2 linked regions of the Homo sapiens genome follow. The protein of the gene in region 1 interacts with the protein of each later gene in a pairwise test. Each region holds a gene or a part of one and is shown in the gene's direction. Other genes may lie near its edges.

Region 1 (7,769 bases):
AGGTCTGCAGCCACCCCAGCTCATACCTCTCTGCCTCCCCGCTCTCAAGGAGGGTCTGCCGCATGTGATGAAAGTGTCTACTCTCAGGGAAAGCTCAGCCATGGCTTCCCCACTGCCCCGGGAGATGGAGGAGGAGCTGGTGCCTACTGGCTCTGAGCCAGGTACCAATGGGTGCAGGGTGGAGCCAGGTGGCTGGGAGGGGGGTGGGAAGGACAGAGGCTGCCCCCTCTTTCTGTCTTGGGGGGTGGTTGAGTGATGATTCTGTTGAGATAGGGAAGGAGTACCAAGGCAGTACAGGATGAGTTTGAAAGGTTCTCAGCTTCTCTTGAGACTCTTCAGAACTGTTTGGGATCATAAATCTCCAACAGGTGTAAGAGCAGACAGGGACCTTTGAGATGATATGGATCAAGCTGCATGCTTTGCAGAGGGGAAAACTGAGGCCCACAGGGAAAAATGGAGTGTACAAGTGGGAGTTTGAACCCAGACCTCCTGGCTCCTTGTGTAGACTCTTTTCTTCTATTTAGCCAAATGTGTAGGAGGTACGGGATTCCATCAGGAGGACTGTGGACGAGGGTACTTCCAAGGTCATTTAGCTTTATATAGAAGGTAGATTTCTGGTCCTGTTTTTTTTTTTCTTCCCATAGCAGATTTACTTTTGTTTGACTTGGGTCAATAGTAAGTTTGCATTCCCAGTCACACACCAGATGACAGTGGGGAGGTGGCCTGGGAGTGTGCTGTGGGTGGGGGAGGAGGCAGCCTGGAGGCAGGATAGAGAAGCTCAGCTGAGATTGAAAGTTTACTATGGATGATAGAGAAGAGTGTCACATAAGGTGAAAAAACTAGATTGGGAATATGGGGGGGCTGACTGCTTGATAGGGACAGGCAGGCATTTGTTTATTGGCTCATTTGTTCATTCATTCTTTTGTTTAATTATAACTTATGCTAGGGGCAAAATACAGTACAGGAAGAAGTAAGGTGCCAGGTGGGTCCTTAAATAGCTTCAGCTTAAAAGGGGAATTGGCTAAAACATTTTGGGAGTTTGAAGAAGGGAGAAGATGCTTTGGGGATGTGTGTAGAAAATCAAGGAAGGCTTCATGGAAGAGGTGGCATATGACTTGTGCCTAGAAAGATGTGAATATTCTTAAATCGGAGGGTGGGAGATGAGGTGGAACAGGAAACAAAGAAGTTCTGCTTCCTGGTTCTTCTGACAGCTCCCCCACCAACCCTTTCCTTTTGGTAGGTGACACTCGGGCCAAACCCCCTGTCAAGCCCAAACCCCGGGCCCTGCCTGCCAAGCCAGCCCTGCCTGCCAAACCCAGCCTGCTGGTGCCTGTTGGGCCTCGGCCTCCCCGGGGTCCCCTGGCTGAGTTGCCTTCTGCCAGGAAGATGAACATGCTGGCAGGACCCCAGCCCTATGGTGGCAGCAAGCGCCCCCTTCCCTTTGCACCAAGGCCTGCGGTTGAGGCCTCCACTGGAGGAGAAGCCACCCAAGAGACTGGGAAAGAGGAGGCTGGGAAAGAGGAGCCACCCCCTTTGACACCCCCAGCTCGATGTGCAGCCCCAGGGGGTGTACGGAAGGCCCCTGCCCCTTTCCGCCCAGCCTCAGAGCGCTTCGCGGCCACCACGGTGGAAGAGATCCTGGCCAAGATGGAGCAGCCTCGGAAGGAGGTCCTTGCCAGCCCCGACCGCCTGTGGGGTTCCCGCCTCACCTTTAACCACGATGGCAGCTCGCGATATGGCCCCAGGACCTATGGCACGACCACTGCTCCCAGGGATGAGGATGGCAGCACCCTCTTCAGGGGATGGTCCCAGGAGGGGCCAGTAAAGTCTCCAGCAGAGTGCCGGGAAGAGCACAGCAAGACCCCTGAGGAGAGGTGAAGGGTGGGAGGTTGTATATTTTGTGGCAGCCTGGAGGTCAGGTGGGGTGGGATTGGGTGGGGGCTGGGGACCAAGTGCATGGCCCCATATAGGGTTGTGACTTTTACCTGTAGGTTGGTTGTGTGCTGTGAGTACAGGCAGATCCCGATCTAGGTCACAAATCATTCCCCAGCAGATGGTGTTATCATTACTGTATGCTTTTAAAGTTGTAGTTTTCTTTACAGAGTTGATGCAGGTTTATGTTAGAGAGTTCAAATGTACAGTATAGAAGTTTAATAGACAATAGACTTTTTTTTTTTTTTTTTTTGAGATGGTGTTTTGCTCTTGTCACCCAGGCTGGAGTGCAGTGGTGCGATCTCGGCTCACTGCAACCTCTGCCTCCCAGGTTCAAGTGATTCTCCTTCCTCAGCCTCCTGAGTAGCTGGGATTACAGGCGTGGGCCACCACGCCCAGCTAATTTTTTTGTATTTTTAGTAGAGTTGGGGTTTCACCCTGTTGGCCAGGCTGGTCTTGAACTCCTGACCTCAGGTGATCTGCCTGCTTCGGCCTCCCAAAGTGCTGAGATTACAGGCATGAGCCACCACGCCCGGCCAAGAAGTTTAGTTTCTATATACTGAGAGCTGGGCACCAAACTTTGCCTCGTTGGCATCCTGTTTGTTCAAGGGAGTATTAGATCCATTGTAGAGATGAGGAAACTGAGGCTCAAAAATGACTCCATAGTCTCGGCAAGTTAAGAGGCAGAGACAGATGTTTGTTTGATTCCAAATCCTCTGCTCTTAAGTGCCAGCTCTTACAGTGGTCAGAGCAGTGTGCCAGTCCTGGGGTGGGGCTGCGTGTGTCAGGATGAGTAGGGCACAGTCTCTGCCTGTGAGGTGGAATCTGATGGGAGAGGTAAGAGAGGAACACATCTTTTTTTTTTTTTTTTTTTTTGAGACGGAGTCTCGCTCTGTCATCCAGGCTGGAGTGCAGTGGCGCAATCTCGGCTCACTGCAAGCTCCACCTCCTGGGTTCACGCCATTCTCCTGTCTCAGCCTCCCGAGTAGCTGGGACTACAGGCGCCTGCCACCACACCCGGATAATTTTTTTGTATTTTTAGTAGAGATGGGGTTTCACTGTGTTAGCCAGGATGGTCTCGATCTCCTGACCTCGTGATCTGCCTGCCTCGGCCTCCCAAAGTGCTGGGATTACAGGCGTGAGCCACTGCGCCCTGCGAGAGGAACACATCTTGATGCCAGGCCAGCTAGTGTCTGCACAGAGATTTTGGCTGGTTGGAGATATTTGCATATGATACGCTTCTCCAGAGTTGCCACTAGTGTAAAGCAAGGCTGGCCAGGAGGTGCTTCTTGGGGTGCTGGGCACGGGACTTTGGAGGAAGAGGCTGAGGCATCTCAGGAGCCATCAGCTGCACAGAGGCTGTCCTTAGTGCTGGGAGAGCCAGCTTGAGGTATGGCTGGCTCCTTGGGCCTTTAACAGCTCTGCTGGGCTCAGAGGCTCCCTTTCTCTTCCTACTGCTATGAAGGCAAGAGCTGGTGTGGTCTGGGCTAAGCGGGAAGCTGAGGGTCCCTGCCCTGCCCTGCCCTCTGGCCTTGCCCTTCTCTCACCTGAAAGTGTCTGGAGCCTTGGCCCCAGAGCTAGTCCTTTGCCTGTCCCAGACCAGGGTGCTGTGAGGTCACACTCTTGCCCAGGCTGGGTTCCACCCGCCATCTTCCTTCTCTCCCTCACTCCAAGTAGGGCTTAAGAACAACTTCAACCCTGGAAAATCACTCTTTCCTCTTCCCCTCCCCCACTGCAATTCTTCAAGAAGTATTGGCAGGGCAGCAGGACCAGCTGCACTCTTCCTGGCTAGAGGAGAACTTTAACTCCTTATGGGTTAAAGGAAAGAGGAGTTATCTTTTTAGGAGCTGTTGAGAGGTCTGGGCATCCAGGATGCTTTTCCTAAAGTAGCTGGGGAATTTAACCCTTCATGCTCAGGTAGGGAATAAGCACTGTTTTCTGGGGCACTTGCCGAATGGAAAATGGACAGATTCTGTGTCCCTAATAGTTGCAGGCAGGGCTCAAGAGTAAATGGCTAGGAGGGTTTAACCTTTGGGTGCTGTTAAAGTTGCACTGGGAGACTCTCCCACATTTTCCATTCTGTGACAGACTCTAACATTCCGTGCTTCCATTTCCTGTCCTCGTCCCTCACAGGAGCCTTCCTTCCGACCTGGCCTTCAACGGGGACCTGGCTAAGGCAGCCAGCTCGGAGCTACCTGCTGATGTGAGTTATCCTCCAGTTATGAATCAGAATCACGTATTTTAGAGCTGGAAGGGTCATATGAGATCATCTTTTCTACTCCTTGTAGTTCAGATGGGGAAACTGAGGCCCATGGGGAGAGTGACTCACTGGAGGGCTGGCCCTGGGATTTTTCGACTCCTGGGCCAGTGCTCTTGATCACCAAAGTGGCTAGGTGTGGTTAAGGCCATGAGGCCATTCATCATAAACAGTAATGATAGTATCCACAACAACTGCCATTGATTAAGTCCCTACTATGTGCTGGGCCTGTCCTGGGAACGTTAACCAACTCAATCCTTGTGATAACTCTGGCTAGTAGACCTGGTTAGTCCCATGTGAGAGATGAGAGCACCTGTACTCACAAAGGGTAAGTAACTTAGGCTGAGGCAGCAGCTACTGTGTCTGCCTCCCATGCTTTCCCTGGCTGGGCTGCCTTTTCTGAGTTCAGAAGAGGGGTGAGTCCTTTTGCTGAGATTTTCCCATCATACTCCCGTTCTTGAAGATGGTCAGCCTGCTTTCTTGAGTAAACAAGGTACAGGATGGCCCTTTTTGCTCATACAGCCCTTGCTAGCTGGAGATCTGACTTGATTCATTTGTCCATCCAGCAAGCAGTGACTGAGCGCCTGTTAGGAGCTGGATGTTGGAGATAGCTGTGAAGGTAGAGTAGAGAGTGCAGGGACGAGTGTGGTCAGGGAAGGTGTCACTGTGAAGGGCAGAGGCTGAGCTGTGTGCATGTCTGGAGAGCAGCATTCTTGGTAGAGGGCACAGCAAGTACAAAGGCATTGGTGCTTTCCTGGCAAGGAGGCCAGGATGTCTGCCTGGCAGTGAGAGAGGAGTTAGGTGGTAGTGAGGACCAACGGGTTGGGGGGTTGGATTGTGTCAAGTCTCGAAGGCCTCTAGAAAGACTTTGGCTTCAGTGAGAGCAACAGGCCATTTGAAGGGTTTGCAGGAGAGGCATGGGATGCTGCTGTCTTAGTTGTGAAGAGTCACCTGGCCCACTGGATTAAGAATCAGTTGCAGGGAGGTAAGATCAGCAGCATGGACCAGTCAGGGGGCTGTTGGAATAGTCCAAGTGAGAGATGATGACGGCTTGGACCCTGGAGGTAGCCTACGGTGGAGATGGGGAGAAGTGGTTGGTTCTGGATAGAATTTGAAGGCATGGTGGAAAGGACTTTCAGATAGATAGAGAGCACAGAATCAAGGGTGACCCCACGGCTTTTGGCCTGAGCAACCGGAAGGATGAGTTTATGGTTGCCGAGACGGGGACTTCTAAGGGTGAAGCAGGATCGGGGGAGATGGGAGGAGTTTGCTTTGTGGATTTGTTGAATTTGAGATGGTTTTCAGACATCCATGTGGAAACGTCAAGCGGATGGTTGGGTAGTCGAGTCTGGCCTTCAAGGGAAGTGAGCAAATTTGAAAGGAACACTTGGGAATTGTCAGAGTAGGAATGCTTGTGAAGACTGGCTGAGATTACTGAGAGTGGGGATGGTGCAGGAGGGGAGGGCCCAGAGGCACAGCCAAGGAGACTGGGAGGACAGTGAGAGAGTCCACCAAGTGGAGACAGCCTCCAGGACTGGGGGAGGGCGCCATCAGCTGTCAGATGCCACTGACAGGTCAAGTAAGATGAGCACAGAGAATTGGATTCAGCTCCAGGGAGGTCATCCGTGACCTTGACGAGAGTAGTTAGGTGGCAAGGTAAAGGAGAAAGCCTGTTTGGAGTGGTTTCAAGAGAGAAGGGGACAAGAAGAACTGTGGATATTAATAGTGAATATAGACAGGGCTTTCAAGAAAATGGATGGTAGCTAGTGAGTGATGTGGGGTCAAGAGTGGTTTTTTGGTTTGCTTTTTTGGCTTTTCAAGACAGAAGAAATTAGAGCAGTTTGTGTGCTGATGGAAATGATCCAGTAGAGAGGGAAAAAAAAATCGATGCAGGAGAGAGAGGAGGGATTGACCTCAGCCCCAAGCGAGGACAGTGCCTGATAGCAGAAGGGGAGGCAGAGTGCTTGGGCTCCCATGCAGGAAGTAGGTGGTGTGTGTGTGTGTGGCGGTGGGGGGGTTGTCGGGGGTTCTCTGCTGGTGGCCTCTGTGTTCTCAGGGAACAGGAAGCAAGGCCATCAGCTGAGAGAGGATTGGGGGAGGTGTGGAGGTCTGACGGGAGAAGATGCTAAAACATTGCCTGGGAGAGTCATGGAGTGAATGGCAGGGGGAGTGCCGTGGGATTCTGGGCAGCTCTAGGGCCGGCTTGAGGTCAGCAGTGAATCTGGAGTGAGACCAGCTGTCACGATTGTGTGTTTTTATCCAGCCACATGCAGCTACTCAGGTGCTGGGCTAGGATTGGCCCAGCTGTATTGGAGAGCTGTATTTAAACAGGTTAAACAGTATGATGAAGCAGATGAGGGAGTTGAGTGTTGAGTAAAAAGTGACGTTAATGGTGATAAGAAGAGAGGTGAGGGTATGAGGGGAGTGGGGGACAATGAGAAAGAATTAGGGTTAAGGGGCTGTGCTATGAGAGGGGCTGAAAATAAGGGCGTTGGGGAAATAGAGTGAGCCGGTCAGATAGGCGGTGGGGGTGGGCAAGTGGGATACTTGGGATTGAGATGATGCAGAGGTTGCAGCCACTGGTAAGGATGAGGTCTAGGGTGTGACCTTGAGAGGATGGGTCGCACAGTCACTGAGGAAGAGGAGGTCAACGAACCAGAGGCTGGAAGGGTCGCATCTGGCTATGGAGATGACTGTAAGCTATCACAACAATGATGGAGAGGGTTGCAGTGATGCAGCGGTTATGGTTTTCAAGGAATGATGGGTGCGTAAGGGTCAATAACAAGAAAGAATTGTGGGTGCTGTAGTTTAAGGGCACGAGCTTTGACATTAGAACGTTGCAGAGGGGAGTGAGCATGGAGGGAACAGAAGGGACCTTGAGAAGCAAGCAGGACCCTTTATTTTGCCCAGGCCTAGTAGGTGATGATGTGGGAGAATTAACGACATGGGAGAGGGCGGCCAGGGAAGTGTGACCTCTGCAGAGGGCAAAGGTCAGATGGAGCCAGAGTCACTTCATTGTCTGGGGACAGGTGGAGTGCCAGGTGCTTGGTGCCTTGTTTGTCCCCCTCTTCTCTCCACGTCCTCCCCACTCTCTGCCGCCATCATCCCATGAGTCCTATGCCGAGGGGCCAGTGCACACATTTCCCTTCACCCTCACCTAACTGGGAGATGAGCATTGTTGCCACCAGCCCTAATGTACAGATGGGGAAGCTGAGGCTCAGAGAGACCAAGTGTCTGCCATATGTGAGGGAGGGCACATGCTGGTAAGAGGCAGTGCTGGGACGGCTCAAGCCAGGCGCTGTCACACCCCCCAGTGCCTTTTGCCTGGGTCCCATAGCCTTCCTGCTTCCTTGGCACCTTCTGTGCCATGAGGGGCACCCCCTGCACGCTGTAGCCACTCCCCCGAGCTGCTCTGTAGCTGCACTGCACCTCGAATCCTGCTTGGACGCGAAACCCTCTCTCCCCTCACGACTCCCACATGCTGAGGTGCTTCAAGAGCCAGATTCACAATGTTCCTTTTCCCTTTATAAAGCAGGTGTTATGGACCCCGAACTGTGGCCTCTGAGGAGATCCTCACATG
Region 2 (9,625 bases), on another chromosome or scaffold:
TTTAGGCTTGGGAATTCTACTTAAAATAAGTTATGAATTACCGTTTTTCGAAATGTCTTTTTTTTAATCACAAGAGTAATAATTTTCATGATATCTAATTTCATTTTAAAATTAAATGAAAATTCTAAGTGTTTGGATATGAAGATTAAACCAGTCACAGAATAGTACTACATTAATAGATTTTGGCTGGGCACTGTGGCTCATGCCTGTAATCCCAGCACATTGGGAGGCCAAGGCGGGCAGATCTGTTGAGGCCAGGAGTTCAAGATTAGCTTGGCCAGCATGGTGAAACCCCATCTCTACTAAAAACACAAAAATTAGCCAGGTCGTGGTAGCGCACTCCTGTAATCCCAGCTACTTAGGAGGCTGAGGCACGAGAATCGCTTGAACCTGGGATGCGGAGTTTACATACAGTGAGCCAAGATTTTGCCATTGCACTCCAGCCTAGGAGACAGAGCAAGACCCTGTCTCAAAAAAAGAGATAGTTAATTTTTAAAGGGTAAATCACAATTAGACTTTATATATATTTTGAGCAATATAAAGGCCTTTTGTTTGTGAGTTTTGGGCTTTTTTTAAGTTAAGAGGATTCAGAACAAGTCTTTTTTTTTTTTAGTATTTGGAAATGTGGGATATATAGCCTCTTCATGGTTCTATTTGCATTTTAATAACACTACAAAATATTATAATATGCAGTACATTTTTGTGTCTTTCAGAGGTAATAATTTTAAAACCAACCCACTCTAGAGCTGCAATATCAGCTTGTTTTAAGAGGCATTGTGTCAGTGTTATGAATAACATTTTTACTATCAGGTTGCATGTTGGTGTTTAAGTGAAAGGAGTACCTAAGGTTTTCTACAAAACTTAAAGCTAGATAGATTTATTTTATACTTGGCCTTTCCTAGTGTATAATTAATTATTCCCTTCTGATGTTAAAAACACCATTTTCTAATTCTTCATAGTAATCCCTTTTGAATATGAGTGAACATAATCTTGAAGAAAAGATTTTCTAATATTGCACAGCTACATTTCTATTAAGAAAAGGAACAATAGAAACAAATTTTCATTAATTGCTGAATTCTCAAAGTAATCTGTTCTTGGGTTTTCTTTATTGAAAAACTAGTGTGGACTTTTCTTGTGAGGTATGGTGCTTCTCTGAGTAGGATCTGAGTGCTGAAAAAAAGTTACTGTTAAAAATGCATTTTACTTCTGATGCATAGAGGGATGTGTATAATACTTTGTGGTGGCTAAGGGTGATTTATTGCTTAAAAACATGATAAACTATATGGAAATCAAGCCTAGATAATGAAAAAGGTCCCAGATAGAAACAGAGTATAAGAGATGAGTGGTAATAACACTTAGGTAGTTTTTACTTCTGTTTAAAAATTGCTGGTTCATTCTCAGGCACTGGCAGGGATATAAAGAGTTTTGGCTATATTATAAAAATTGCAATCTCTGATCTTTTTAATGAAATCTCAGTTTACAAAGTCTTAGGAAAAAACTGAATGAAGCAAATGGCAGTCTGCCTCTTTCGCCTTACTTCCAAATGACATTTCAAATACTGAGAAGCATAGTAAGGTAAATTCAGGGTGCTTACTTCACAGTGTAGTGGCTTGGAAATGATGCTGGGTCATTTCCAAGATAAATACTCAGAAAGTACAAAAGTCAACTCAAATTGAAATTTAGCTCCCAGTGTACAAAATGGTCACCAGTCAGACCCCCCAGGGGACTGAACTGAGTTTCTCTTAATACCTTTTCCATCATCTGAAACAGAACCAACTTCAATCAAGTGTCACTTCACTTTGAATTCCTCACGTCTTATTTAAATAAGTGATTCTCAACCATGTCTGTTCATTATAATCACCTGGGATGCTGGGATCCTTTTTAAAAATACGAATAGCTAGACTCTTAATATTTCAACTTAATTAGTCTGGAGTCAGACCCTTACTTCAGCATTTTTCTTTATAAGGTCTACAAAGTGATTCTACTAGGCAGCCAAGATGGAGAATTACTGATAAAAATCAGGGCTTTTCAGACTTTAACATGCAAGTGCATATGAATCACCTGGAGATTTTGTTAAATTGCACATCCTGTCCAAAAGAGGTGTTTATGGGGCCACAGATTCTGCATTTCTAAATTCCCAGGTGATTGATTACTGATGCTGCTGGTCTTCACAGCACAGTTTTGAGTAGCAAGGATGCAAACCATCTTCTACTATTAGTTTGCTCACAGTCTTTTTATAGTTAAAGGACATTTAAAAATGAGCATTTTATTTCAGAAATGAACATTTGATTGACAAAAACGATTCTCTTACAACTAAATTTTGTTAGTCCATACTCTTCTGCTTCAAAGTAATGATAGCAGTAGGAGGCACAAAAAATACTTAGATATTTTGTTAATAAGAGGTAATGAGATTAGAGTTCTTTAATTAAAATGCAACTACAGTTTACTTTTGTTCCACTCATTTAAAGAAGCTTTTCTCAAAGTTATAAGCAAAAAATTAGCAGATTTAAAATTTAAATTTTTTATTAAAATAAATTTCCTTAAAACTCTCAAATATAAGCTGTTAGTCTAATTCTAGACTTAATAAAATAAATTTTGTATGATAGACTCCAATGATGTTTTAGTAGATTAGCAATCTTTATCTTGCCTAGGCATTTTACAATGATGATATGTGGCGTATGTGTGTGTGCTTGTGCAGGTGTACACATGATATTGCTTTAGAAAAAGTTGCCTAATTTTCTCCCGTTTGTCTGTTGTTTTTTCTCCCACTTCTTAGCATCATTCACGGTTATGTGTTACAATGTGTTATGTGATAAATACGCTACCCGGCAGCTATATGGCTATTGCCCATCCTGGGCATTAAACTGGGAATACAGGAAAAAGGGAATTATGGAAGAAATTGTTAACTGTGACGCAGATATCATTAGTCTTCAGGTAACACCATAGAAATTAAACTGTCTTTAACTTAAAAGGTGAACTTAAACATAAGAGAAGATCTGACCACTGGGAGAGATCCTGTGTTTAGAGCCAAAGCTCAAAAAGAATTGTTTTCTCTCCTCTTAAAAATAATGGACAATTTAAATAAGCATTTAAGACATTTCCATAGTGAAACTATTTTGCTGACTGAATACAACCACCTACTTATATTTATTTACTGTTTTCTTAAGTGGAAATAATCTTACCCGTTCATGTTAATATTCACCTCATGATCATTGGTATTGCTGAAAGAGAAAACCACAGAAGATTGCCAGTCTTTTAGGAATATAAATTTACCTTGTATTGGAGTCTGTTTTTTTTTAAAAAAAAAAGCTTGCCCACAGTTATTCCTTAAACAGACATATTTTAATATATTGTACTATAAATCATGCATATTTGCCTTACCTTACTTTATAAACCATCTCTGAAATTTAGATTCTTCTGTTTTATAGCACTTTATAAATTGAACTTTACTGAAGAAGCAGCATCTTTTCATGAAATGTGTTCTGTTGCTTCAAAATTTAGCTAATGATTAGCCAAAAAGATGTTTGAATAGTTTTTAGTAACTTTTTTCTTAGCAACTTTCAAAACATATTAAGTGCTTAAAGGTTTAAAAATTTTTAATTGACAAATAATTGTATATGTTTATGGGGTACATTGTGATGTTTTGATACATATATATTTTTTTAAATGATCAAATGAGGCTAATTAACATATTCATCAACTCAGAAACTTACTATTTCTTAAAGGTGTTTAAAAATGTTGTGTGTTACAGGCCGGGCATGGTGGCTCACGCCTATAGTCCCAGTACTCTGGGAGGCCGAGGCGGGTGGATCCCTTGGGGTCAAGAGTTTGAGACCAGCCTGGCCAGCGTGGTGAAACCCCATATCTACTAAAAATGCAAAAATTAGCCAGGCAAGGTGGCGTGCACCTGTCATCCCAACTACTTGGGAGCCTGAGGCATGAGAATTGCTTGAACCCAGGAAGCAGAGGTTGCAGTGATCAGAGATTGCACCACTGCACTCCAGCCTGGATGGCAGAGCGAGATTCTGTCTCAAAAAAAAAAAAAAAAAAAAAAAAAAAAAAAAAGTTGTGTGTTACAATTTCACACATTCTTTTCATCATAGCCTGAGAGGAAAAATTATTAAAAATTTTTTTATGTAACAGAGTAGCTTGATAATTTATTTTTAGGTTGCTTGGGAAAAAAGTAAAAATCTTTTAAAATTAAAATAAAATTTCTTCTAAATACTGAGACTAACAGAGAATTGGGGAGAGGAGGCGGCAAACAAAATCAGGCTATTGTAGTTTCTTGTCTACTTCTTGGTTTAGTATTTGTAGTGATAACAGCCTCACACCCTCCTAAATATAGCAGTTTGAAGGATAGAACATAATTTAAGAAAATTGTCTTATTATAAAAGCAATGCTATAATACTATACTGTATTAAAAAGAGATCATTCTAGAGAAGTTGAAAATTTTGAAAAAATATAAAGCATGATGGAGGGAAATACCTAATTTCATGTCATAAGATAGTTGTGTTAAAACTTCTGGAGTATTTTTCTTCTATACATTAAGTAAAATATATTTACAGATACATTTTGATTCTTATTTATTGTACTTAATGGATTTTCCATGTTACTAAAATTCTTCAAAACTCATTAATTATATGAACGTATATTGATGTAGCTTTTCCCATACCATTGGACACATTTAGTTGTTTATGGGTTTTTGCTGTCATAAACTCATGCTGTTAGAAACATCTGCATACATAAATTATCTTCATATTTATTTCATTTAGAAAGACCTGTTAAAATATTTTATGAGTCAAAGAATAAAATAGACTAATAATTATTAAATTAATAGAGGCCATTGGATGATTGCGATTTAGGTACTTAAAAATTTCTTAAAGTAGAATTTTTTGTGGATAGATTTTACGTTTCTCACTCTTGGGTATCATTTCTTTCCACCATAGTTCAGAAGGATATGCAAGTTTTTAAATTACCTTTTTATATATAAATTACTATTCCCTATCACAGAATCTATCATATACCCAACTTGCTTTGTTTAGTTGCCAGTCTTGAGGAAGTAAAGTATAATGGAGTGAACTGTAAATTGGGAATCAAGAGACCTTGGGATGTAGTCCTACTCCTGTTACTATCTGTGTGAGCATGAGAAAATCATGTCACCTTTCTGGTTCTTTCATGTTTAAAAAGCTGCCATTGTCAAGTAGCAGCTGCTAGCAATCAGGTAAGATAGTAAGATAATATTTGCTATGTGAATTATTTTTACTAAGTTACATCTTACTCATAATGCTGAACATTTTTATATCTTAATCAGCATTTTCCCTCTGTCATATAGATGATAACTTTTCTTTCATCTCAGGAAGTGGAAACAGAGCAATACTTCACTCTCTTTCTGCCAGCATTGAAGGAGCGTGGATATGATGGATTTTTTTCTCCAAAGTCACGTGCCAAAATCATGTCTGAGCAGGAGAGAAAGCATGTAGATGGTTGTGCAATATTCTTCAAAACAGAAAAGTAAGTTAAGGAAACAAAGCACAATGGTGTACTTTTATTTATTTAAATGCTTACACTTTAAAATTGTCTTTGGTTTTGCCCTATAAAATCAACAGAAAGCTAGAAAACAAGTATTATGCAACTTAAAACTGTTGTTAATGTTTCATTTCTCAGGCTGTGTATTCGAAATAAGGATATTTATTGTATTATTCCTTATGCTTTTATTACCAAATAACACTGAACATTTTAAGAGATACAGACTTGAATGGTCTCATATTTCAGAACATATTTTCATGAAGTAAAGTATTAGTTTTTGTGTAAAAAAAGAAAGTGATACCTTTTAAGGTTGGCCATAAGTGATCTGGGTTTCTTTTCTGTGATTTTTTTTTAATAATTGATTTTTGAGAATCATTCATTTTAAAATCATTTATTCACTAAATGTATACTGAGCATTTGCTTTGTGATAAGTCCTGTGCTAGACACAACAGACACAAAGATAGTCAAGACATAGTTCCTAATCTCACTGAAAGCTCAAATCCAGTAGGAAAAACTAGGCATATAAGACAATTGCAATATCATATGGTGTAATATAAGATAGAGGTCTGCCTGGGTAGATAAGAGAGGCAGGCACAGAGCATATGGAGGTAGAGAGTTAAAAGGGTTGACTGAGACAGGGCAATGGAAAATGAAACGTGACATCTGATAGAGGTTGAATCCCATGGTTAATAGTTTGGATTTCATACGTTAGGAAATCATCTTACAGGATAAGCATATACATGCTTACAGCTGTTTTCCAGTATTTCCCCATTTTACATCTATTTTACCAAAGCCAATCTGTTTTTATTGATCCAAGCATATTACCAGCATGACATGCTATTTTAAGTAAACAAATTCAATGAATTTGAAAGATATTTGGTCCACTTCCCATTTATCTATGCCTACTTTCCTGTCTTTTCCATGAATTTGTAGTAGAGATATTCTTATTTTGGTTAATAATTAGTACAAAGCCTTGTAGTATTTGAGGTCAGAATATACTAAATTCTTCTAATGGTTTGGTAATTTTTTATGCATTTTAGAATAATTCTATTAAAACTACGTATCTCTTAACTACGGGAATATGTTCTGAGAAATGCATCATTAGGTGATTTTGTTGTTGTGGGAACATCATGAAGTGCACTTACACAAACCTAGATGGTACAGCACTATACACCTAGGCTATAAGGTATAGCCTGTTGTTCCCAGGCTAGAAACCTGTACAGCATGTTACTGTAGTAAATAGACAATTGTAATACAATGGCATTTGAGTCTAAACATATCTAGACGTAAAAAAGGTAATGTATTGTGCTGTGATGTTAAGACACCTACATCATCACTGGGTGATAGGAATTTTTCAGCTCCATTATAGTCTTGTGGGACTACCATCGGCATGTAGTCCCTTGTTGACTGAAATCTTGTTATATGGTATATGACCGTACTTCCAGAGTGTTTGCCATCTGTCAGCCTTTTCGAATTGTTTATATTAGTTGTCTTGTTCAAATTTTAAAGCAACTCTTACAGGCAGCTATACAGCTATTTCCTTGTTTTTAAAGATGAGGAAACCAAGGTACAGACAAGTTCAATAACTAGTTCCAGTTACACAGTCTGATTTCATAGTCCATGCTTTTAACTACTGTAATAAACTGAATCTTTAGCCTTCTTGTTTGAGCTTTTGATATCACTAATACCTCTTATAAGATTACCTCATTTAGAAAAATTGCCCTGAATTTGACATTTGTTTTTGTTTTTAGACAGGGTCTCAGAGTCTTACTCTGTCACCCAGGCTGGAGTGCAGTGGCGATCATGGCTCACTGCAGCCTCAACCTCCCCAGGCTCAGGTGATTCTGTCACCTCAGCACCCTGAGTAGCTGAGACTACACGTGCATGCCACCACACCTAACTAATTTTTGTATTTTTTGTAGAGATGGGGTCTTGCTGTGTTGCCCTAGGCTGGTTTTGAACTCCTGGGTCCAAGCAATCCACCCGCCTCAGCCTCCCACAGTGCTGGGATTACAGACGTAAGCCACCGTGCCTGACGATATTTGTTACCTATGTTCATACACAAATCCCCTTGAAACACCATAGCTTAAAAAAAAAATGCACCAGTAAACTTGAGACATCTAACATCAGGCTCTTTTTCTATTTGCTATAGTTTCTTTCAAGATAATATGGAAGATTTTTATTATTACTCTCACAGTTTTGAGAGGAAAAATCTAAAATTCCTTAACAATTTACTAGAAGTAGTTAAGGCTTTGAAATAACAGTTAGAACTGTTATCTGGGTATTTGCAAATTGATTCTTGAATTATTAAAAATGCTGTGAACTAGTTAAGTAATGAGCACATAGGAAGTACTTAGATGTGTCACCTGTTTTTCTTTTCTTCCTCAACTCTTTTTTCCTGAATAGTAACATGGATCTGGCAACAGATTGAATGTGATACATCAGTATATTGTACCTCTTTTCAACTTCTTTCCTGGAATGACAGGACTATATACCTCCTATAGGTAGAACAAAACCACCTTCTGTCCCAGTACCAGATATTTATCCATGTCTTAGCTGACTATTCAGTGCCAACTATTTGGAATTTAAAGTATTATACCCTGCCTTTATTCTTTCTTCAGACTGGAAATATAGGGCAAAAAAAGACTGTGAGTTTTGAAGCCAGGTGCTTCTTCTATTTATTTAGCTATATAATGTTGAAAGACTTAGCATTTCTGGACCTGTTTCTTCATTTGTATATTCTTATCTTGTAAGATCATTTTTGTAGAGGTTACAAAACTAACAAAGATAACTGTGGAAGAGTAGTCAACACTGTACTTACTCTCAGTCTCTTTCTTCTGTAATCAGAGTATCTGATAATTCCTCATCTTCACTGATGACTGTTTAATCATACATGAAAAACTGGTACAGAATACGCAACAATAAATGGAAACTATCATAATTGCCATTTATAGCAAAATACTATAATAAAAATCTCTAATCCATCATGATGAAAGGATAGAGTATTGTTTAGTAAAGGCTAGGACACAAGTTACCAATATTCAGATAATTAGAATATAATACACTGTTCTTTAAATCACATTATTCTAGTTTAGTTTTGGGGGATTCAGAATCTACTTCAGGATTTGGCAGCACCTGTTTGGTCATCATTATGAACATCATTTTTTGGGAGTTAGATGCATAGAGATACTAGAAAATAGAACTTTGAGTGATAAAATACCAGATCTCAGCTTTTGCTTTGTCTTTTAACAAGTATTATTTACGTTCCAAAGCATTTTATAAAATACATTCATACATATGCATATGTTTCTTATATGTATATAATGTATATGTAGAAACTGAGTTGTAAATACATTTTTTTTTTTTTTTTTTGAGACGGAGTTTCACTCTTGTTGCCCAGGCTGGAGTGCAGTGGCGTGATCTTGGCCCACTGCAACCTCCGCCTCCCAGGTTCAAGCAATTCTCCTGCCTTAGCCTCCTGAGTAGCTGGGATTACAGGCATGCGCCACCATGCCTGACTAATTTTGTGTTTTTAGTAGAGACAGGGTTTCTCCATGTTGGTCAGGCTGGTCTCAAACTCCCGACCTCAGGTGATCTGCCCTCCTTGGCCGCCCAAAATGCTGGGATTACAGGCGTGAGCAACCGCGCCTGGCCGTAGATACATGCTTTAGACTCATAATTTAAATTTCTTTTTGCCATGTTTTGTCCTATAGACTTAACCATTAAGTAGAATTGGGTCTTGGAGCCAGATACACAACTTAATAGTGGGGGAAAATATGAAGATGAAAGCAGACCTATATGCTAGACTTGCTGTTCCTGAGGTTAGCAGTTCTGACCTCCTTATCATGCTTTATTTCAAGTCAATGAGAAAGGGAAAGATGAAAACAGCAATTTAGAACAGTGTGATCATTGCACTGTGAAGAGGCAATCTCTTATCATAGGATTGGGAACTTAGGTTGTCATGGCACTTAGTTCTTGCTGTACTTCCTAACCTGCTTCCATTCTCAGAGGTACCAGGTAAGGCCAAGTCCTTGCTTTTTTTTCTTCTATTATCACAGGTAGTTTTGTGCTTGGAAGGAGGGTTTTCAGAGGTCATAGT

Evidence for each region.
Region 2: the proteins of TNKS1BP1 (region 1) and CNOT6L interact in binary tests that used the Homo sapiens proteins (3 or more experiments, as listed by UniProt).

Annotation. Positions count from the first base shown.
Region 1 is NC_000011.10:57,314,184-57,321,952, reverse strand, and holds part of TNKS1BP1 (182 kDa tankyrase-1-binding protein), read left to right. Parts: intron 1-2; 5' UTR 3-67; coding exon 68-161; intron 162-1,240; coding exon 1,241-1,874; intron 1,875-4,065; coding exon 4,066-4,135; intron 4,136-7,769.
Region 2 is NC_000004.12:77,738,027-77,747,651, reverse strand, and holds part of CNOT6L (CCR4-NOT transcription complex subunit 6-like), read left to right. Parts: intron 1-2,776; coding exon 2,777-2,934; intron 2,935-5,332; coding exon of another isoform or gene 5,333-5,356; coding exon 5,357-5,511; intron 5,512-7,448; coding exon of another isoform or gene 7,449-7,544; intron 7,545-9,625. UniProt on the Homo sapiens protein: Has 3'-5' poly(A) exoribonuclease activity for synthetic poly(A) RNA substrate.